3 linked regions of the Homo sapiens genome follow. The protein of the gene in region 1 interacts with the protein of each later gene in a pairwise test. Each region holds a gene or a part of one and is shown on either strand. Other genes may lie near its edges.

Region 1 (8,557 bases):
CCGTGACCAGGTCAAGGCAGTCAGGGTGACAAAGTCAAGAATCCTATGGAAGCATTGCTCTGCTTCTATATGCTTCTTCACACTGGTACCAACCTCTTCTCTAAACTGTTTACTCCTCCTAACAATTTGGAATGCATTAGAGCTTCACCCATGGCACATATTAGAATCGGCTGGGGAGCTTTTAAAATATTGTGACGTCTCTACCCTGCCCCTGTCAACCAAAATGAGAAGTTCTTGAGATGCAGTCCATGTGCTGCCATTTTTAAAAGCTTCTGGGTGAATCTAGTGTGCCGTCAAGGTGAAAACCCCTGTGACAGGGTGAAAGGCAAAGCAGAACACACTGGGGTTCCCAGCTAACAACCCCTGCGGCAACACAAATATTTCTATGGAATAATTTTTAAGTTGAAAATATACATAAATCAGCTCTAGGACTGATACCCAACAACCCTAAAACATTTCCCCCTACAAGAAACACTTTCCAATTACTTTTCACATATAGAGACGCATGGCAATTCAGATGATGTGAGTTTTGAAGACACTCCTCAATGGTAAAGCGTGTTAGTAGGCTATCCCAGAAGACTCGAGTTCTAGCCATTCTCTGAAAGATGACCACTAATCTAGGGCCTGGAGAGACATAAGATGAGGGGTACGAAAGTGTTCAAAAGCATTTGCCATGCCTCCTCATGGCAACCTAAACTTAAACATGATCATAGGAGGGTGAAGGCATATTCAGTCACACGTAAAACTGCACCATAAATGAAGTAAGATGAACAGACAGGTAAGCAGGTGACTGTTCTCTGCTCATTGACAGCACCATGTGAACAACAGGCTCATGGACACCATGGTATCAATGATCAAGGCCCACACACCTGAACGCAGAGTGAAAGCCTTGTTGACAGGCCATAACAAGCAGAAAACTTGAGAAACCCATCAGCAAGTTCCATAATATAAATATAAATCTTCATTCGGAAAGACAGACTAATGCTGTAGCTACTGGAATCAAGGGCAAGCTGTTCAGAAGAGAGCCATCTGCTCTGGTTCCGCTTATGACAAGAGCCATCCCAGGCTCTAAGAAGCACAGGGACAAGTCAGGGATGACACGGGGGTGGCGGGGGTGCACAGTGTGCCACAGAGCCAACAAACCAGTCCCCCGCTGCCTTGGCAACATTAGTGGATCATAAGCCACTCAGGAAGTTGGACATGATTTAACTCATTTCTCCTTTTTTTCACTTCTTCTGATAAGTAATAATATGTGCAATATACACAATTTTTACAAAATACAAAAATGTTAAGAAGAAACATATCCATACTGCATTCCTAAAAATAGTCACTGTTTACATTTCCTTAATCTGCTTCCCGTGCATTTGCATTTTCTAAATGGTTAACATCAGTTAACAACCACCCAGAAGGTCATCCAGTGCCCCATAATGCTAACAGTGTAGCTGTCACTGAAACAAGAATTTCTTAAATGTCATTTAATATCTAGCCCTTCTGAAAAAAAAAAAAAAAAACAGAAAAGTTTATACTAAAAAATAATGACCTGGTTTCATTCCACACACATATCTCGTTGTATTCTTACTCTTTCACCATAAGCAGTCCTTAATCCATGTAATTAGTTTCTTCAGCTCAAATATAGAAAAATGAGGTCTGAAACAAAACATCCCCTGAGAAAGCAGAGGAGACTTCAAAACTATCTTTACAGACCTTGGTTGGTGCTTCCAACTGTGCAAATATTGCTATAACGTGAAGCAACCTGCAGTTCCTATGAATCAAACATTTACTGAGTGTCTACTACGTGCCAGCACCATTACTGTGAAGGTAATAAAAATTAAACATGGCCCCTGCCCTTTGCAACGTCAACATCTAGAAGGGAAGACACATATATACAGAGGTAACTAATTCAAGAACAGTCTGTGATCTGTAACACAGGGACACAAAGGAAAATGGGGGAAAGTCAGATTAATTCTATAAATTAGCATTTATGCCACTGAATTTTAAACTGATAAACTGCTAGAAACAATATAATCTGGGTAAGAAAAATGACAATCTGGGGAAAAACAGTGGGCACTGAAGCACCTGTCAATTAGCTGTCTCATATAAACACAATATATATCTGTGCAATATATATTATACTACAATATATCAGGAGGCATATTTTGCTAAGTGAAGATTTAAGCAAACAGATTTTTCCTAGAGTGAATGAGCCCTGTAACCCACCTGTTTCCTGAATTCCACCAAAACATGGGTCTCACTTACCTGTCACAGTGAGAACTGCCTCTGGAACTACTCTGTCCTGATTCATGTTGTGCATCCAAAAGAATCTTCTCCATGTCTCCATTGTGGATGGAGGATGAGGATGGTACGTGTTCCAGCCCCCCATTTTTCCCATTGCCATTATCATTGCCATTGCTGCTGTTCATGGGTAGCTCCACCCAGGAACCTGTTGGACAAGTCAGATAAGTTAACCACAGCAGAACTGAAATCTGTCATGTGCACACAGATGTGAACATGGTGAATCCAGATAAGAATTCTGACTCTCCTCAAACCAAATGTAAAAGTATTCTGAAGAAAATAAATAAGAAGTAATAAAAGTCTAAAGATCTATATAGTTCTGTTCCTGAAATAGCTCATGCCATCAACTGAGAAACAGCTCAAACTCTAAAACATCTCAGAAAACGTGTTTTTCAGTCAATTTCTCTCTGGGTAAAGCTTGGTTTATAATAACACTCTACTGAAAACTCAGGTTGCTTTTCAAAAAAAAATTGCTACTTTTAGGCTATTTACCTTTAACATTTTAGTTGGTGTATATATACACACACACTTTCTTCATAGTCTACCTAAGCTGCTCAGCTGTATCTGCTCCAGAAATGAAATAAATATATCACCTACAAATTTCATAAAAGGTCATCTAAGTAAGTTAGCAACTATATCCTACTTAGTGCAAACAACTGAGAAACTCCTAGAGAGGGAACCTAAATCCAATAGCAAAAATTTCAATTTGTGCACAAATCAGGAGCATAAAATTAATGCAGCTGGTTAACTAAATCAGGTAATAATGCTAAAAATTCAGAAAAAAGCTTTATCTCTATCTCACTGATTAGTTTCTTCATTTCCTTTGTATCTCAGGCTTTCTAGTCCTTCTCCTTTTTTATACACTAAACATACCTTGTGAACTTGTCTTTTTTCTTTTCTCTCCCACGGGTTTCTACTTTCTAGGGTTTTCATTAAACCCTGTTGATTTGGGAGCAGAAACAACTGCACATCAGCTACAGGCAAACACGAAAAGTTTTCTTGGACAAAAAGTTGAAGGGGTGGAGCCACAGAAAAAGGGGATGTGCCACTGGTAATTCTGCATACATCTTGAAAATATTTATTGGTCTGATGAGTTTGCTAAACGTATTAAGGTGCTTTAATTTTAACAAGAGTTGAGGCCAGGTACAGTGGCTCACACATGTAATCCCAGCACTTTGGGAGGCTGAGGCACCAGGATTGCTTGAATCCAGGAGTTTGACACCAGCCTGGGGAACATGGCAAGACCCTGTCTCTACAAAAGAATAGTAAGTAAGTAAGTAAATAAATTGTTAACAGTAGCCAATAAACTTAACTTCACAGCAAAAAGAGATAGTGGTATATTTTGTTCATAATTTCCATTTCTTACAATAAATTTTGTTTTAGAAAATGTACCCAAGCAGCTTGGTGTGGCCATCCCTCTAAACTCCCAGCAGAAGTGTTAGAGAGTTCCAGGGATGAACAAGGAGTTCCATCAGTAAGTTGAAGTAAAATCATCAAAACTGGCTCAAACTCTAAAATGCACTCTAAATGTGGCGATGGCTACACCAGTTCCAGAGTGAACTGAACATCACCCTCACAAGAAGGAAAGCTCCAAGGCAGACCTAGCTGGGAATCTGACCCCATCACTTCCTGTCTACCTGTGTGACCTGAGCTTCAGCTTCCTCATTTGTAAACAGAGATAATAATAACACCGGGGTGCTGTGACGATTTAGTAGTATCAAGTGCTGGTAAATAGAAGATGCTCAGTTATACACTAGAATTTTCTTTTATAAATACTTAGAACCCTTTCCTTTCCATTTGAGGCAGCCCCAGTGGCTACCACCATCCCATAGTCACCACCAATTCCTTAGGACTCTGCTGCCAAACGACACAGTTGTACAACATCTCCATGGCCTCATTCTATACACACATAAAATGGACACAGGCTAGAGAACTCAAAATGGATTAACAAATACAACTAGCAAAGCTAAGAGAGATCTAACATTGAAGATAATTTATCTCGAGTGCCTCTGGAGTGTATAAGAAATACGCCAAAAGCATCCCTAAATTTAGAGCTCTGCAACATATTTCAACTGGAGAGAAAGGGGGTGGGGGAGAGAATATGTATATAAAAACAGTTTTTTTTTCTGACTCTCACTGTTTCTAGGATTTTCAAACTTATTTTTAAACCAATGGGACCAGTTCTTCTTGTATAGAAGCCTAATGTGTACAATAGTAACAAACCAAAACCCAGAGCTGCTCTGACAGAAGCAGAGGTAAGGAACCAGGAGTTCCAGATAGGTCTCTGTGGAAGTCAGTCTTCCCTAAAATACAATTAATATTCACTTGAAGTAGGCAATCGAAGAGAAAAAAGGGTGTAACAAACAATATCAGGTTTTCTGGTCCTTACTTTTGTTTTTCTTTTGAGACAGTCTTGCATTGTCACCCAGGCTGTAGTACAGTGGCACAATCACAGCTCACTGCGGCCTTGATTCCTGGGCCCAAGCAATCCTCCCACCTCAGCCTCCCAAGAAGCTGGGACTACAGGGCACATGCCACCATGCCCGACTTATTTATTTATTTATTTATTTATTTATTTATTTAGTAGAGACAGGGTCTCCCTACATTGCCCAGGTTGGTCTCAAACTCCTGGGCTTCAGCAATCCTCCCACCTCAGCCTCCCAAAGTGCTGGGCTTACAGGTATGAGCCACTGCTCCCAACCTGGTTTTTACTTTTTTGAAGGACTTTCAAATCAATGTCTGGATCCTATTTTCTTCATTAAAAACACATAAGCAATCATAATCCAATATATACTTTTGGAACCTGAAAGAGACATACCTAGAAAAGCTTAGTAAAAGTGATCTCTGCTGTGGCCTCCACACCCTGAATCATAACTGAAAGCATTTCTACTTAAGGCGGACAATTTGTACTTGGGATACACTGGTATAGTGTGGTCAGGGGCTGAGACTGAAGCCAGGCTCCCACTCTCAGTTATAGCTGTTACCCTCGCACAGGGTACTTAACCTCTTTGTGCCTCAGTTTTCTCATCTATAAAATAGAGATAATAACTGTATCTACCTCGAAGACTTTGTTAGGAGGATTAAATGAATATAGCACGCAGAACAATAAGAAAGGTCCCTAAGAAAGTTTTAGCTACTACAATTATATTCTATATCATAGAAAAACCATTCCTTACTGGAAAAATGTGTTCCTAGAAAACGTAAACATCAGTACATAAAATTAAAAATTAACATCTCTCCCAACCTCCCGTTCCTACTCCCAAAGGAGCCACTTTTGACAGTTTCACATGGAGACTTGCAGAGTTTTTGTCAATGAAATATAGGTCTGTTTTTGCTTTTGTTTTTATAAAGAAATGGAACTGTACCATACACACATACTGACATATTCTGTAAGTCGTTTTTCAGATGTCTTCCCTATCAATATATACTGACATTCATTCTTTTGAACAACTGCATTGCATCTCATCTTTTATAAAGATATACCATACTTTAACCATTATCTAAATGGCAATGGTTAACTACTACTGAGATGGTTGTTTCTAATACTTTGTTATTACAATTAGGGCTTCAGTGAACATTCTGGAGAATAATTTGACAATAGGTATTAACAGCCTTAAAAGTGTAGATTTCCTTTAATTAATTAAGGGTAATTCTCTTTCAAAAATATCATCTATGGAAATACATAGTGGTACAGAGAAAGTTATGTACACAGGCATTAAGAGGCTACATATTAATCTTTTGAGTAACACATAAAAAAGCAAATGTGTCTTCCTCAATAGATGAACAACACGTCTGTTTCCCATCACCCGATTTGTTCCTGATTTACAGCCTCAGAATTTCTTAGTGTTCTAACTCTACCAATCCTCACAAAGTCCCTTTTTACTTGGAAAGGAAACAAGGCTAGATAAGAGGTTTGTGCTGTCCAAGCAACACAAAGTAGAAAACAACCACAGAGTGAATTCTCCTCCTAATGATCAAGCTTGAAAACTAAAAGCTGGAAGCTTTCTCCATTATCTAAAAGACTTTACAAACTAAGAGCTGTTCCTTATGCCAATTTGTACATAACATACAATGACATGAGATATTTTCTGGTTTGGGTTTTTGGGAATGACTAAGAGATTCAGAGAAACTTCTGTGAATGCTTCTCCGTTCTCTAACATAATAGACTGTGAAGGGTGGTCCAATAATTGTGATTATACTCATTGCCGTATGTTGTATAATCTTTACAGTTTTATAATCACTAGTTCAATCCTCTTGCAAGAAGAAGAAGAGAGGAGCTTTGGGACAAGGGGAGGAGAGAATGAAGAGTATTTCTCCTCATCTTTCCCCCTAACTTTTCAAGGCCCACATGTAACTCTTTTGAAATTTCATTATATTTACATTCTTTCCTCAAAGCTTTTCATTCATTATTGAAAGGAATCCAGACCAGGCCAACCTGATGCTGAAATCCAGACCAGGCCAACAAGAGTTACTGGCATTCTTCTTAAATAAAAAAATAAATAAATAAATTTTTGAAAAGTTGGTCTTTTTGCAGCAGTATGTATTTACATACAAGTTACGTAGGTATTCAAAACATTATTATGAGGCAGTGACAATCCATGAAGGCCTTAAGAGCACTCTTCATAACAAGAAAGCAAGGACATTGTGCTTGAAGATGTTTCTATTTAAAAAAAAGAGTTTGTGACCAGCTTGGGCAACAAAGCAAAACTCCATCTCTACAAAAAATAAGTTAGCCGGTGACCAGCCTGGGTGACAAAGTGAAACTCGAACTCTACAAGAAATAAAATAATTAGCTGGATGTGGGGGTGCACACCTGCAGTCCTAGCTACTTGGGAGGCTGAGGCAGGAGGATCACTTGAGCCCAGGAGGTCTAAGCTGCCATGAGCTATGACTGTACCACTGCACTCCAGTTTGGGTGACAAAGCAAGACCCTGTCTCAACAAAACAAAAAACAAAAAAGAACAAGAAAATTTGAAAAGAAAAAAAAGGCTATACTTCTCAACAACAAGAATTATACTACGATTTACACTACTACTTTGATTTTCCTTATTCGGCCCTATTGAATCTTATTCAAACATTCTTAAGGAAGTTGATAGTTTTCTTAACAATAAAACAAACTGGACAACATCCTTTTGACTTGGAAGGAGTTTGGGTATTTGCCCTGTAATTTTTAATGAAAGTGAACAGTCTCTCCACAGCGGTAAAGTTAAAAAAAAATCACAAAAATACTTCACTATTCAAATACTTCAGTAATTTGCTATTGAAACCCTGCTTTGACCCCTGAACCAAAGATAAAATCCCAAACGCAAGATAATCTGTACATTTCTTCTCCTGTTTTTCAGTTGTGCAACTTTACCCAACAAAGTCCTTCGACTTATCAGCAATTTGGATAGTACTAGATGCCTGAATAAGTTGTTTTGCCCATTGCCCAAAAATCACTTCAAGGAATTCAATGAGGCTTCTTGTTTTGTTCAGTACAGTGTTGTGTAATGAGCTAAAAAAACGAACAGAGTGAGAGGCAAGAAGGGAGTAATTAAATATGGCAATATCTAAAAGCTTTTCAGAAAGCTCACCCTATCCCACACAAAATACTTTCTATCTAGCAGATGTCCCAAAGCAACATTTTGATGTCCCATGCAGGCTGAGTGTACTTCCACCTCTGTAAGAGCTGATGTCAGCCAAGCAGGAACCGACTGGCCAAAGACATCAAACTCCTCATAGGTCTGTCAGACACCAAGATAAACAATGACATATGGCTCAGCCCCCGCCCTCGCCCCTTTTTTTTTTTGAGACAGAGTCTTGCTCTGTCACCCAGGCTGGAGTGCAGTGGCGTGATCTCGGCTCACTGCAACCTCTGCCTCCCGGATTCAAGCGATTCTCCTGCCTCAGCCGCCTGAATAGCTGGGATTACAGGCGCCCAACACCAAGCCAGGCTAATTTTTGTATTTTCAGTAGAGAGGGGGTTGTTCTCTCACCATGTTGGCCAGGCTGGTCTCGAACTCCTGACCTCAAGTGATCCACTCGCTTTGGCCTCCCAAAGTGCTAGGATGACAGGTGTGAGCCATCGTGCCCTGCCTGGCTCAGCCCTTTTTGTTGTTGTTGTTAAAGGGTCAAAGGAAGATGAAAATCCCTTTGCTTTCAGTGAAATCACGTACACCTACCAAGTATCTTCACTCATAAGAAAACTGTACAATTAAGAAACAATACTAAAAAGAAACAGAAAGGTTGGCCACCTTTGTCAATTAGGTAGAATAACACACTGACA
Region 2 (7,812 bases), on another chromosome or scaffold:
TGGGTCAGCCTCCCTCCATTCTGGTTGGCGATCTTGGTCTAGTCACAAGCCAAGACCGTTGATCATACACAAAAGTTTAAGTACCTACTACGCGCCAGGAAGCTCCCTCAGAAAGATGGTTGGTCCTGCTCCCCCACCCACCCTCCACCCTGGCATCTTTTATCCACTCTTCCTTCAGCAACTGCCTTTATCAATGCTCCCTTGAGCCAAAATAAACAAATAAAAAGCAACTTCCTTTGGAAGCTACTCCATACTCTTGCGCTGGCCACAGTTACATCTCCCTGCAGATACACAGATTCTCATGACACAGAGCTCAGACAGTGCTTCCTCTCTGGAGGGCTCATGTTTCGAGAGAAGACTGGAAGGAGGACAACCTTATGCTCCAGTAGAATTCCAAATTCTGGGGTGCAGGGACATTTCGTGTGTGTATGTGGAGGGGGGGGTGTCCTAATGCCCTGTAAGCCACACTTTATAATGCTGTACAATATTGGGTCACCATCATGGGCCATGGAAAGCAGAATCTGTGAGGTTCAGTCCCAGGCTCCAGCACCCCTTTGTCAGCTGGCCTCCCCGCTCAGTGCCCTCTCCCACTACCTGCCCTGCCTCAGCTCTGACTGCTGCTGATGTGCCTCCACCCATCAGGTCATTGTGATGGCAAAGACAATGCCTCCATTTGCCCTGAATGCAGCCTTACATAGGAAAGAGCTTCCTGTGCTCCAGAACTTGGAGGAGTCCTGCAGCACCTGGTCTAGTGGGGAGAGCATCAGTGGGGAGCGGCACCTTTCCTGCAGCCACGGCCCACTGGGCAGGACCAGATCCAAGTGGCCTGGCTTCTGGCTAGGGTGTCAGAGTACATTGGGGCATACAGCTTCCCGTGGCCATCTCGTTTTCATGGAGGATTTATTTTGTGAAGTGGACCTGCTCTGTCCCATCCTATAAATGCTGGATTAATCCAAGAAGCTGAGGGTGAGCAACATCCCTCTCCTTCCTGATCAAATAAGAAATAAATCTAGATTTTCTCCTGGATGCTATTCTCTTCTTAGCCAAACAGCTAACCTTGTCTTCAAGGAAAAAGGGCAATCCCAGGGGCTCTGTAAATTGAATATTCAGCAACTCCAGGGGCAGACATCCCTAAGTGCATAAGTGGAGCACCCCTCTGAATCAGCATCACACCAGCTGGGGGCATAAAAAGGAGAGCAGAGTAGGCAGGAGCTGTGGGGACATTTCTGAGATGCTAAAAGAGGCAAGGAAGTGTGAGGACGGGTGTGCATTCATGCAACAGGTATTTACTGAGCACCTACTATGAGCCAGGCAGTGCTCTATCCATTAGAGATACGGAATTGAATAAAACATAAAAATCCCTGCCCAGGAGGAGCTCACATTTCTATGGGAGAAGACAGTTACTGAAAAACAGTCCAAAAAACTCTATTTTATAGTGTGTTCAGAGGTAATACAGGCTATGGGGAAAAAAAGAAAGCAAGCAGGTACATGGATGAGGAATGGGGGCGATCAGCGTGGGCCTCACAGAAATGATGACCTTTCAGCCAAGACTTGGAGGAGGTAGGGAGGGTACCTGGGGATGCCTAGGGTCCAGGCAAGGGGAACGGCAGGGGTCAGGATCCTGTCAGATTCATCTGAGGTGGGACTGAATGTGAGCAGAGAGAGGGAGACAGAGGATGAGGGCAGAGAGAAGGCCAATCACACTGGGCCACGGCTATTGCAAGGACTTTACTTTTGCTGGGGGAGGGGGTAGAGTTTTGAGCAGAGGAGAAATGCGATCTGGCAAACATCTTGCAAGGATGGCTCTGACTGTTCTATCCTTGGCAGAGGACACCAGAGTCTGGCCCATAGAAGGTGCTCAACAAAGCTCAGCACATTGCACTCCTCCCTGGAGTAGGAAAGGGCTCGTCTGCTTTGGGAAATTTGGCTCTCAAGCTTCTGGAAACACCTGACCCCATGCCAGGTGAGACAAGCTCACACTCAAGGCCCCCTTAGTCCAACGGTCAGTGGACAGAACAAGCACCAAAGGTCAACGGCGTGGGCGGTGGCCTCTCTGCCAAAGTGTGTGGGCCCAAGTAGGGTATTCACCTCCCTCCCTGTCTGTGAGAAATTTCAGACCCCTCTACTTTTTCCAGCAGGAGTTCATGTTCCTTTTAAGATAATCCTCTATAGACCTCTGGCAGCCCAGCCTTCAAAATGTCTCCCCCTGTCTCTCTTACTCATGGAGAGCCCCGCTTCCCCGCCTCAAAAAAAAGTCTTCCTCTCTCTTACTCATGCATGGAGAGCCCCACAAAAAGACACTGGTTCCCAGGGATTCTTCCAAAGATGCTGGAAGACCTCTCAGTGTTTGCATTTCCCAAGCTCGGTTTCCTTGTGCTGTCCTTGGGCATTAAAGGAAGGCTATTCAGCCATCCCCATCAGCAGGAGCAGGCATCAAAAGAACAGCTACTGCAGGGGGAGCATATTAGGGGCACCAGAGGGGGCTAGGAACTGGGTCTTGTCTTCTCAAAGTTTACAACCCACTGCAGGGGCCACTCACCAGCCCTGGCACCCTAAGGGCAGGAACCTCCATTGGGCACGTGTGTCTCCAGCACTGGGAGCACTGTCTGGCACCTGGGGCACTGTGAGTGTTGAATGGATAAAGGACCTGTAAGAATTGCCATAAGAGGTGTTGCCCTGGGGCAAGGTGGGACAGGAAAGTTCTTGCAAGAGAAGAGAGGCTCTGGCCTTGGGCCCTGGCTGAGCAGAGAGCTGGGAGGTGGGTATTCGGGTAGGAGGAAAGCTGTGGAGGGGGAAAGCAAACTGCCTGCGGGGGTGGGGGGGTTCTCGGCGGGAGTTGGGGGTGGAGGGAAAGGCGCTTTACAGCAGCACTCCCTCCACAGGGAGACCAGAGCTCTGCCTCTTCCTCCCCACCGTGCCCTTTGGGGTCCAGTTGTGGGGCCTTCCTTGAGGCCCAGCTCCTGCCTCTGGCCTCCGGAGGCTTATCTCCCCAACAGAGGCTGGCTCCCCAGAAAACAGGATTCTTAGACTTCCTAAAAATAACCTGAAGCTCCTTATCAGAGGCTAATAGTGTATGTCTCCCAGGAATACTCTAGAAAGAGTACCAGGGGTCAGGAACCCCCACTCAGCCTCCACGAATCTGAGCGGAAAAGCCCGGGTCTCCTCACCTGTAAAGAAAATAACTGCAGCCGGCAAATGTGACCACAGGTGAGAAGGGGCTTCGGACCAGGGCGCACACCTCTAGAGAGGTGCCCACAGACAGCCTCCCCTTACTTACGCCCTGCTTCGCTGCAGTGCTGTGAAGCCATCGGCATTGGAAGTGCGGAGGGCAGCGGGCAGTGCCCCAGGGGGAAGGGGGGACGGGTAGGGTTTCAGAGCCCAGAAGGCCTAGACAGGGAGGCAGCTCCGGGAGAAAGGTACCCGCCATCCCACCGGTCTTGGAACCTGAGGACTGCTGGGAAGGGTCAAAAGTCTGCCCTAAGGGTGGACAAGGGACAGAGATTGGGGGGGGACCACAAAGGCCTGGGCGCAACCTTGTTGAGAGGGAAGGGATCCGGACCCAATCTGGAGCCCTGGTCTCTTCCCACCTGCAACCGTGGCTGCCACTTGGCCTCGGTTATAAAATGGACAAGGATTCGAGGTGCTCCTCAGGTTAAGAGAGGGGGGCCTAGAGGTCACCCTGGCCTCGGTGCCCTCCGTGGCCGGGTTAAGAGGAGGTCCCGGAGTTCTGCTCACTTCAGCCGTGTGCCGGGCACTGCAAATCAGGAAGTGTTGGCGCCGGCTGGCGACCTCCCGCCTGGGGCCAGGGGAGGAGGGTGGTTGGACGCTGCCACCGCTGCCGGGGCTGTGCAGGGCTGGGCGGGGAGCGAGGACCCGGCGGCTCCTGATTGCGGCCCCGGGGGAGGTGGCCGAGCCGGATAAGCTGCGGCGGGCTGGAGGGCGGCCACCTCCCCTGCAGGTCCGGCCCTCCCGGGCGGGTGGGGCGCGGGGGAGGAGGAGCCTCGGGCCGAGCCACCGCCTTCGCCGCGGACCTTCAGCTGCCGCGGTCGCTCCGAGCGGCGGGCCGCAGAGGTGAGTGTACCCTCCCCCGGTCTCCGCGGGGCTGCGTGCTGCGCCCGGTCCCCGAGACGCCCGCCCGGTTGCACCCTGCGCCGTCGCTGCGCGGACCTCGGGTGCCGCCACACGTCTGGAGGCGACTTCTGTCCCCTGGGACCGAGCCACGTGCGCCCGGCGGCAGAGAAACCGGGTTCCGGGGCCCCCACCCCGTGTGCCTTCCTTCCCTAGGCGTGGAAGCCGCTTGCGCCGCGCAGGTTAGGCAGGGCCGGCGGCGACAGTGGCGGGGAGCAGGCTCCGGAGCCCCGGGTGCAGATGTGGGCGCCCCTCCGGATGACCCCGGCTGAGTCCACAGGTCCCGTGTGCCCCACGGCTGGGGCTCTGGCCAGCGGTCCCAAAGGAGGGCTGGTAGCTGTGGGCGGGGATCTTCCAGGCTCTTCCTCGCCAGACCTCCCAGTCCCTTCGCAGCCGAACAGGGCAGGGACAGGGGCAGGTGCAGGGGCTGGGCAGGGGCGCCCGACCTTGGTCCCCAGGAGGAGGCTGGCCTCACCAGTGCCCGCCTCTGCCCGCGGAGCCCTTGCCTGGCAAAGTTCCCCCTCCTGCCCGGCAAAGCTCCCCCTCCTGCCCACTTCCCCGAAATTTGGGGACAGGCTGCCCGGAGAGGTGTGGTTGGAACTTTGGTCACTCTGGGTAAATGAAGGGGAGGGTGTGCCCAGATAATATGCGGTTTGGGGACCAGAAAGCCGGATCCGTGGGGAGAAGCAGGAAGGTCCCGCTGGAGCCCTGGCAGAGGGCACAGAGAGGCCTCCCAAATATCCAGGGCCACCTCAGAGATGGGCTCCAGAAGTGGGGATTCTGGAAATGCCCCCAGGGAGGTATTTCTGTCCATCAGAGTGCAGCCATAATATAATTAACAGCAGATATTCCCATTTATGTGTGCCAGGCATCTTGCTAAGGGCTTTGAGCACAATATCCCAGTTAATCCTCACAACAGGAAGGCACCATTATCTCTTGTTAAAAATGGGGAAACAGCCTCAGAGAGTCCACGTATTTTGCAAGGATACACAGCTAGGAAGTTGCAGAAGTAGAATTTGAACCCAGAGTTATCTGACTTGGAGCCCAGAGGAACCTACCACTGGGGCGAAACAGGCTGTGTCCTCACGGGGATTCTGGCAGCCCCAAGAATACAGTGCTGAGAGCCAGAAGGTCCACAAAACCAAAGGGTCTCACCTGGGTGTGTCCTCTCAGTCACCTGCAAGGCTTGTTAAAAATATAGATCCCCAAGTCCCATCCGAAGCTGACTGAATCAGCTAGGGGCACCTGGAGGACCCAGACTATGTCTTACTCATCTCTGTCCCTGGTGGCCTGCAGAGGGGCTGGCAAGGAGCAGGTGCTTAGTGAATGTCTAATGGGTAAGTGGGCGGGGTGGGGTAGATGGTGTCACTAGTGTCCTGAAGGGGGCTTAAATGGAGCAGGTGGCCTCAGCCAGGCAATCCGGCAGCAGGTATGGAAGTGACACAGTCTAATGCTGGCCTCAGAGCCAGCAGGGAGCTCAGGCTGGGCCACTTGTCCACCTGGGGGTTGAACAGCCTGCCCCAGGTTTGCTGAGGTCCCCAGGACCAGGCCAGGTCAAGCTGGGATCACACATGTTCCCTCTCCAGCCTAGAGATGTCAAACAGGTAGATTCCTCTCCCATTCATATCTCCTATCCTTGGCCCACAGCCCTTCCCTTCTTGGACTTATCAGAGACCAAGGTGCTGGGCAGGGCTTCAGGTGGTTAAAAAGTGAAAGTTCTTGAGTGAAGTCCAAAGGCGCACACCTGAGAGCTGAGTGGGCAAAAGGTCGCTGGCTGAGTGCTGGGGATAGTCTGGCTTTGGAGTCAGATGGACGAGTCCAAATCTCAGCTCCTTACCCCGTAACATGAAGCCCTCAGCTCTCTGAACCTCTGTTTATTTGCAAAACCTTGCCAAGGGCTTCAAACAGGATATCCTCATAAAACAAGTATGCCTATTTGGGGGACTAAGTGTGTGAAGTGCTGAGTTTTAGGAGTGCAGTAAATATCGGATCCCTCCTTCTTCACCTCAGGTTTGCGAGTTAACCAGTGAGGGGCCTTCCAGGCCTAGTGCTCTTGTAGACCGAACCACTAGCTTTCCTAGAGAAGGCAACTGAGGCCTAGAGAGTGGCCTCCAGGTTCCGTGCTCTGTGGCAGAGCTGGCCTTGGCTCCAAGTCCCAGGGTTCCCAGCTCAGTCTCAGCTGATGCCTCCCAGCCTGGCGGTCTACGCTGCCTGCTACATTCCCTGTCCAGCTACAAATGAACAACTGAGAGGGCTGGGGTGAGATTCAGGCAGGCTGGGGCAAGGGAAGGAAGCAGGTCATTTGGGGAGTCGGGCTCTCTGGTCTTCCAGCTGAGGCTGGATCCACTCTTTCCTGTCCACCCACGGTGCGTAGTGGCCAGGTCTTCCTGAGCTGAGCAGGTTGAGCACTATGAAACTGCTTTCTAGCATCTAGACCAGGGAGTTGCCTCTTGATTTAAAATGAGGATGTTTACCAGTTTAAGTAGTTATTAAAACCTAAGGCCAAGTTGGTGCCTTTCCTCCCTCTAGGAGTTGGAAGGGTGTGTGCTTTTTTCTGCTCCTACCCCACCCCTGCCAAACCATCCCAATTTGAGAGGCTGTGGAGATTACAGAACTTGGAGAGGAGAGGGGCAGGGATCGGGGTTGGAGACTAGATGGTTTTCAAACATTGGGCTACAGAAGTCCCTCTTCCTCCCATCTGTCTCCTGCAGCTGGGTCCACCCACCTGTCCAACACAGCCTCCCACAGGTCCCGGGCCTCTTTGTGCTCCAACCGTCACATCCTTGGCATGCCACACACCCTCACCATCCTGCCTGAAATGCCAGTCCTCATCACTGACATTCAGCCTCCCATGTGCCAGCATCCGGGCCAAACACTTTATCTACAGGAGCTCATTTGTACCTGGAGACTCTTAGGAGGTCGATAATGTTATTCTCCCAACCATGTGACTTTCCAACTCCATATGGACCCCAACCTCTTTTTTTCCACCCCTAACCTGAGACTCCTAGCCACTAACTAACTGCCACATTCTCCTGTCCAAATTCTGCCTCATCGGTTATTCATTCAACAAACACTTACCGAGCACTAACTTTGAGCCAGGCACTCTAAGACCAGCTGAGTCCCACTTCTGGCAGGATGAGTGTTGTTGTCATCAACCACCCCACAAACACCCGTGCCCTCTGCGTACTTGCGAATCTGAGTGAGGAGACACGGTGGCAGTAAGGCTCAGGACCTATAGCTCATGTGAGTGAGCAAGGATGCAAAACCAAAGACACCCGCTCCCCTCACCCACTGAGCTGGAGGGATCAACCACTGTGCCTGCCATCAGGGCTGATGGGCGACTGCTTGTGGATCACAAACTCTTGCGTTGTCACTTCAACCCAGGGGCAGAGTGTGTTCCTCTTCAGGTGTGGCCTGGTCTCGTGAGCCCTGCACTGAATGGGCCAGGCGTTCATTGCTTCAGCACCGTAAGAACACTGTCACCGGAGAATTGTTCGATACTCAACTCTTCCCAGTCAGTCTGTCTTCTGCATGCCCACAGTTACCGGGCAGCGTGGGCAACAAGTGAGCACTGATTGTTCCGCAATCAGGCTGTGACTTACTCCATCTCTGCCTTCTGCTTAATGAGAGCCAGGTGGGAGTTCAGCAAAGATCACATGTTTAAGCCTTGTTATTAAACACGTT
Region 3 (8,008 bases), about 25 Mb from region 1:
AATTGATGGTAATATTTTGTCTTTACATCCTTTAGTTCTGATCAAATCAGACCTTGATGGGGGAGAAATGTTGAATCCTCATGCCCTACTACTATGCAAGAATCTATCAGCTTTAAAAGAATTTCAAAGAATTTCAACATTTTAGACATAGTGTTTTCTTACTGCATTTATTAGTATTTCAACTAGAGCAAAATAGAACTATGTAGACATACTGGCCCTGAGCTATATTAATTTAGGTTATAATTTTCTCTTATTAGGGTCTGTTGGCTTTATACAGTTAACATGAGCAGGGTTAGAAGTAAATACTTAAATAACCCTTTCTCCATTCTACACAAACAGCACCCTAAAAGCTTTAGAGAATGTGCAAACTTCAAAATAAAATCTCGCTGAGTCTGTCCTCCTGGAGGCTGGGCTCCACCACCACACCAGGGGAGGGAGAACTGCTGGAGACGCTGTCCCCACACCTGGCTCCAGGAGAAGCACAGATAAAACCCTGGAGAAATCCAACACTGCTTTCCCCTGAGGACTGGAGAGACAGAAAGACTCACGTCTTTCTTGTTGTTTTTAAAGAACTTGTAATAAAAATAAAATACAAGATAACTATTAATCTATTTCTCAAAATACACTAATGACCTCAAGCACACCATCTTGTGGGATGTATTAATAATTTAGTCACTATTTACCACTTGGGACATTGATGTGGTATTGATGTTTAGGGCATCGATGTGAGTGAGCGCCTCTGCTTTCCTTTCAAGAACTTTATTTTCTGCCACAGCCGAGTGACTCCTGAAGTCCGGTGTTTCCAGGTGAGAGGAGTAGGCAATGCGGAGCACAGGCCAAGGCCTCTTCCTCCAGCACACACCTCTCCACTCCACACTGATCTCACTCCAGAGAAACCCAGGGAAGTCACAGCCCTGACCTGCATCCCAGAAGTCTGCACTCTTATGGAAATAACGCCCACAAAGAGAAAACTGGAAAACTGCAAGCTGCGTACAGGATGCTGATGGGGTCCCAGGTCACAGCATCGTTCCCAAAATGACCCACACTTAGACCAGCAGCTTCATATTCAGTCATTTGCTCGCCAAGGGAACTCAGTAGCCAGGTCACCGGAGGGGCTCTTTCAAACTATTCATGGTTCCAACCCTTCTTCCTTGGTAAGTTCTACCCAAATCACACCGGCCCCCAACCTCCTCCTGCCACCGCCCAAACCACGCACTCACCAGGATGTCTCCAGTATCGCCTGCCATAGGCTCCATCTACTTCCATGGCCACCCTGTGAGGCTCTGTACTGGCGACGACTGTGCCTCACTCACCCTCATTCACTTGCCTTAACTCCGAGGTGCTCACCTGCTCCTCCTGCAGAGGGTCCGCATCTGGGGCCATGGTTTCTCTGCACTTTCCTGTCACTGTGCTCACACACCCCATCTGGTGCCAGATGGGGCCAACCTCAGGGGACACCAGGAACACAAGTTCCTCCTTGAGTTCCCAGGTGCCAGCACAGTATCTGACACCCGGCTGGTGTCCATGGTGGTTATGCATGAACAGTCTGTACTGTTTACACTGCAGTGCACTTTTGATGGACTGATATCATCTACCCACCTCGACCCCGAAGGCAGGAGTGATTTGTTATGCTTATTTTTCCTCTCGAGGCTACCAGTCTCCTGTAGACAAGAAATGTGCAGTAACATGACCCATTTGTGTGAATGGCTGAACATTTGCAGGATCTCAAATTTCATATCAAATATCCCATAAACAATGTGATGGGTCATAAAAGATAGCAAGAATCTATGTAAAAACAATTTTAAGGCTGTGCACGGTGGCTCATGCCTGTAATCCCAGCATTTTGGGAGGCCAAGGCGGGGAGATCACCTGAGGTCAGGAGTTCAAGACCAGCCTGGCCAACACAGTGAAACTCCGTCTCTACTAAAAATACACACACACACACACACACACACACAAATTAGCTAGGCGTGGTGGTGGGCGCTGTAATCCCAGCTACTTGGGAGGCTGAGGCAAGAGAATTGCTTGAATCCGGGTGGCGGAGGTTGCAGTGAGCCAAGATCATGCCACTGCACTCCAGCCTGGGCAACAGAGCAAGATTCCGTCTCAAAAGGAAAAAAAGTTTAAAGAGTTTAACATGAAGAACATTTTGACATCAATATGACAATCAAGTGACAAATATTTTTAAAACATGTTCTTCAAAAACAGAAAGAAAGTGCTAGGCAAATAACTATGCTAGGTCCCAACACTTCTGAGCACTAGTACAACAACCTTATTCAAAAATAAAAAGCAAGCAAGGTATGTGTGTACGCACAGATATTACTTCAGTTTTTCTAAAGTATTAAAAGAGGCCAGGCACGGTGGCTCACATTTGTAATTCCAGCACTTTGGGAGGCCCAGGCAGGCGGACCACAAGGTCAGGAGTTCAAGACCAGCCTGACCAACATAGTGAAACCCCATCTCTACTAAAAAGACAAAAAAGGTAGCCAGGTGTGGTGGTGCGCACCTGTAGTCCTAGCTACTAGGGAGGCTGACGCAGGAGAATCACTTGAACCCAGGAGGCGGAGGTTGCAGTGAGCCGAAACCATGCCATTGTACTCCAGCCTGGGCGACAGAGTGAGGCTCCGTCTCAAAAAATAAATAAATAAATAAATATAGTATTAAAAGAAAGGAAAAAATTAAGTGCTTCCAGACGCTATCTACTGAGCCATAAAATCTACTGAGCTTTCTTTCCTTAAGGAAGAGAAAGCCTAAAAGACTTAAAATTAAGAAAATTGCCTCCAGCCTGGACGAGAGCCAGAATCCGTCTCAAAATAAATAAATAAATAAACAAAACCAGAATATTGCATTCAACTAAAATGAGTTTGTAACTGAATGTGTGTGCTGCAATCCAGCCTGCTGTTGAGTTTATGGCAGCGTCCAGGACATTGTAGCCAGTGATTAAATGCGTGAGGCACATGTCATCTTCTGCTGATGCATGCACTTACCTTTAAGAGCATCCAGGAAACGCAGGTAAAGGGCGTGCTCATCTCCAGGAGCAACGTGGTCATAGCTAGATAGTGGCCAGCTTGGAGATTGACCAAGCAGCCAAGAAACCCAAGAAAGGCAAAGAGATGGTGGATAACCAGAAACAAGTCAAATGTCCGGAAGATCAAGTTGGACAGGTGGACTGCAACATTTTCAAAGCAAAAGAATCCCGTTGCTGTCGTGATGTGAAACCAGCACCAGTTCTGCTGGCCACGCGCCTTGTCGGCATGCAGCACAGGGTCCCCCAGCAGAGCCCACAGGCCTGCGGCTGTGCTCTGAACACCAAAGACTGCACGCGTGGCCGCCAGGTCCCAGAAGACCTTCTCTCTGGCCACCAAAGAACGGTAAGTGGCATTCAGGGAAGAGGACAGCTGGTGGCAGACCACAAAGACGCCCAAGTAGAAGACAAAGCCAGCGACCATCAGCGTGGAGCGGATCCCCCAGGATGCATAGTCCAGGTCAAAAATGCTCTCTGATGTGCCCCCATCGCTCGCAGGATTCATTGTCCACAGCTATATTCCAAAGGAGTCCTGGGGCCAACACGGGCCGGGCCCTACACTGTGTCTTGTCTAAGGAAATGAAGTCAGTGCAGCGGTCCCTGGGATTGTCACGTATCCATCTTCAATCTAAAAGAAAGATCATTCATTTTGTGTTGACTCGATAGAAACAAGGACACATCACTACCCCAGTAACGCAAACATTAAACTACAAAATATTTAATTCTGTACCTTATTCTTAATGAACTTACAAGGGTGCATAAACATACCAAGGTAACATCCACTGACAGTATAGGAGGAAAGAAAATGAAACTAAAGCTAGAGCGGTCCAGCCACGAACAGGAGGCCGGAGCCGTGCTGGCAGGAACACACGGTCCTATGCTCGTCCTATGTGCACCCCACCAGCAAGTCTCCCGCCTTCACAGCAGTCCCAATCAGTCACACAATTCAGGCATCGCAGGATGAAACATATTTAAGTCATTACACTGGGATACACTTTGTTACAGCACTGAACTTCTGCTGTTTGATCCTAGTTAACACCCCAAGGATGTCACGAAAACCTGTGCTCCTGTTCTTCATGTTATTCCTTGGTTAAGGCCATGGAATGCCTTCTCAACAGCAGCAGGGAAGGCCTGAACTCCTCACTGTGACCTACGGCACTCTGCAGAATGTGATTATCAATTATACCTTCTCTGGTTCCACTCTCACCATCCCCTGCATCTCACTCCATGCTATAACCTTCCAGTCCTTTGAAAACATCACACTCTCCTGCACCTCTGGGTCTCTGCAGCTGCTGGGCCCTCTCCTGGAAAAGTCTTTACCTTCCCCAAGTTGGCATCATCTTACCTGTCAGGTCCTCACTTAAAGGCCATTTGCTCCAGATGCCCTCCCAGAGTAGGGGAGACCCATGGACTGGGTTAAGTACCTTTGCTACAAGCTCCTGATGCATACCCCAAACACTCATTTTTGGTGTTTGGGGTGTTAACTAGGATCAAACAGCAGAAGTTCAGTGCTGTAACAAAGTGTATCCCAGTGTAATGACTTAAATATGTTTCATCCTGCGATGCCTGAATTGTGTGACTGATTGGGACTGCTGTGAAGGCGGGAGACTTGCTGGTGGGGTGCACATAGGACAAGTGCTTACTGAATCCTCACCTCCACTGGACAGCAAGCTCTGTGAGGGCACAGACCACACCTGCCTTCCATCACAGCATCTCCTCTGCCTGATGCAGCACTGGGTCCACAGTGGGCCCTCAAGAAACATTTATGGAACACATGAACAGATGCTGAATCATGCTGAAAGGGTCCACTTTACCTAAGCCTGAACCTGTCTGCAAAGCTACAAACACCAGAGTCTCAAGTTCTTGAAAAACTGGAAGGGACGTGTGATTGATTCCAGCCTTTCCTTTTACACGGCAGGAAACCCAGGCACACAACGATGACATAGGAACGGCTACCGACAAAGACTCAGGTCCCCGCCTGGTCCCCCCTCACCCAGTGTGCAGGGACTTGTCCAGGTAATGGAATTTCTGCAGGGAGTGGGGACTCTTGTCACTCACACCCAGCGAACAGACAGCAGGGCTGGGAACACCACACTCCCCACGCAGCTGGACCCTCTGCTCTCCGGAAGAGACCCCAGAATTGACTCAATTGTGAGACAGCAGGACTAGAGCCAGAAGCATAGGAGGAGCCATTCACTGTGGCCATTCAGCAAAAACTTGCCAATCATTATTCAGGCAAAAAGGTCGCTGTGACCACACCCCAAGGACATGGAAAACACTAGCTCACACAAGCATGCAAAGAATGTGAGTCCTGGGACCTGATGCAAATGACAAGGGAGCACTGATCACTCCTAACCTCTTGCTTTGATAATGGTCTATAATCAAAGGCAAAATAGTACAAGAGTTTGTCTGTTTCTCCATTAACACTCCAGCTTTAACACAGACTAGCTCTGTTTGAACACAAATCTGATGTGGGGAAAGACAGCACTGGTACTCATGTTTCTCCCTAGAGAAACGGCTCCCGTGTCATGCTGCCCCTGGTGCGTGAGTTCAGGGCACACAGGCGTGCTCTCTGATAGATGCTATGGATGACAACTGAGGGGCTGCCATGCCCATGTGTGCCCTCGTGACCCACACTTCTGGTCATGCTATATATCAAGACTCCAGTGTACTTACACATCTCCAAACACATTTCTGTTAACCTGTTGACAAATCAGGTTGAACATGGTATTAAGGGGCTGGCAAGAGCACTCGGCTCTGGTATTCAGTGTGCAGCAAGGCATCGTTGAACCCCTATGCACTTCACAGGAGCAGATCAACTTCAAGTGCAGCCTAATGCCTGGAGGGGAGACCGCTTACCAGCATTAAAGAAAAGCAGGCTGGGTGGAAAGGACAGGTATCAGGCAAGGAATAGCATCCATTACAAGGGTTAACGTGAACAACACTGTTAAAGGTTAAAATATGGACCCCTCGTAAAACTTCTCCCTGTACTTTTCCACGAGTAGGTCATCAGCTCTGACTTATAGGTCCCATTTTGCCACAGTTGCATCAATGTCCGCTTGGCCAAGACCACTAACTTCTGTAGGACCTCTGCCTTGAGACGAGAGAAACCCCGACTCCAGAAGGCTCTGCCCAGATCAATGACTCAAATCCACCTCAGTGGAAGTGGTGAGCCCAAGTGATGCTTCAGGAGGTCTTTGGTTTGGTCAAGGTGAGAGGGACTCCAGGACATGAGAACCAAAAACCAAGAAGAGCGGCTGGCTTAGTGGGCTCTGATCTTGATTTCACTATTTAGGAGCTAAGAAACCAAGTTTCAGGCTGGGTGTGGTGGCTCACACCTGTAATCCCAGCACTTTGGGAAGCCAAGGTGGGTGAATCACTTGAGGTCAGGAGTTCAAGACCAACCTGGCCAACACGGCAAAACCCTGCCTCTACTAAAAATACAAAAATCAGCCAGGCGTGGTGGTGCGCACCTGTAATTTGAGCTACTCAGGAGGCTGAGGCAGGAGAATTTCTGGAACCCAGGAGGGTGGAGGTTGCAGTGAGCCGAGATCACACAACTGCACTTCAACCTGGGCAACAGAGCAAAACTCCATCTCAAAAAAAAAAAGAAAGAAAGAAAACAAGTTTCTTTCCTAACCACCCTGGACCCCAGAATCTGACTACAGGAAAAAGAAATACACAGAGCAGGCCGAGTGCAGTGGCGCACGCCTGTAATCCCAGCACTTTGGGATGCCAAGGCAGGTGCATCACAAGGTCAGAAGTTCGAGACCAGCCTGGCCAACATGGTCAAACCTCGACTCTATTAGAGATACAAAAAATTAGCTGGGCGTGGTGGTACATGCCTGTGATCCCAGCTACTTGGGAGGCTGAGGCAGGAGAATCGCTTGAACCCGGGAGGTGGAGGTGGCAGTGAGCTGAGATTGCGCCACTGCACTCCAGCCTGGGTGACAAGATGAGACCCCGTCTCAAAAAAAAAAAAAAAAAAAAAAAAGAAAGAAACATACAGAGCAGCGGGAAATGAAGCACCTACTACAAGCCAGATGTTCAACTAGTTTGTGTGATCTTCACCATAAGAGCAAATAGCTACCAGGTCTTCAAGCTTTCTAGATATCTTTTTGGAGAGATTACCATATCTACAGAAAAGTGGCAGATAGGTGAAAGACATGGAAACAGAAACAGGTAAGCCACAGCTGAGTGGGCAAACCCTCCTGGCAGTCAGAGAACAGGTGCCAATTAGGGATGCAGAAACAGCAGATTATAAAGACCAGAATGCTTACTTCCCCTTCCAGTCCTGTAGTGAATCCCCCATTCTGATTCTTTGCTCAAACCTCCTGACTTTCTGGGTAAGCTGGTGCTGTTCTAGTCTAACTCGTTACTGTGGGTCTCTGAGTTTAGTTAATGCCAACCAGCATCCTCCAGCCAGGAGTTCACAAAGGAGGTGAACTCCTCAGCTCTCTCAGCCATGAGGGTAGAAGGCCAGTCCCAGAGGCAGGATCCAGCCCAAGCGCCCAGTCTTCCTGGAGTCCTGCAGAGCTCTGCTGTCCTTTCGTGGCATCAGCGTTGTACTGAGAACAGCTGTGGTTCACCCCAAGTCACAAGGTGGGCACCCACAGAAGTGTGGCTAGGCCTTGTTCTGTCAGGCAGCACAGAAGGGGTATGGGAAGAGCTCAGCTTCTCCTTTTGCTTCTATTTCTGCTCCTTGACCCAACCACACCCTCTCACTCTTGATACGCAAAATGGGACACAGGGGTTCCCACTGTTCCCTTGCTGTGCACCATAAGGCTCAGGCCACATGAAGGAGTCCTTAAGTGTAATGCACAGCTGGAAGTCACTGTTCCTTCCATGGGTAAAACTGGAGGCCGAATCGGCCGGGCAGGGTGGCTCACACCTGTAATCCCAGCACTTTGGGAGCCCAAGGTGGGAGGATCACGAGGTCAGGAGATCGAGACCATCCTGGCTAACATGGTGAAACCTTGTCTC

Evidence for each region.
Region 2: the proteins of BNIP3L (region 1) and STEAP3 interact in a two-hybrid assay, tested with the Homo sapiens proteins (one study listed by BioGRID).
Region 3: the proteins of BNIP3L (region 1) and CLN8 interact in a two-hybrid assay, tested with the Homo sapiens proteins (one study listed by BioGRID).

Annotation. Positions count from the first base shown.
Region 1 is NC_000008.11:26,385,126-26,393,682, reverse strand, and holds part of BNIP3L (BCL2/adenovirus E1B 19 kDa protein-interacting protein 3-like), read right to left. Parts: intron 3,271-8,557; exon of another isoform or gene 3,166-3,270; intron 2,441-3,165; coding exon 2,257-2,440; intron 1-2,256.
Region 2 is NC_000002.12:119,219,818-119,227,629, forward strand, and holds the start of STEAP3 (metalloreductase STEAP3), read left to right. Parts: upstream 1-4,016; 5' UTR 4,017-4,071; intron 4,072-7,812.
Region 3 is NC_000008.11:1,766,577-1,774,584, reverse strand, and holds part of CLN8 (protein CLN8), read right to left. Parts: intron 3,654-8,008; 5' UTR 3,531-3,653; coding exon 2,988-3,530; intron 1,662-2,987; coding exon of another isoform or gene 1,413-1,661; exon of another isoform or gene 1-1,412. UniProt on the Homo sapiens protein: Could play a role in cell proliferation during neuronal differentiation and in protection against cell death.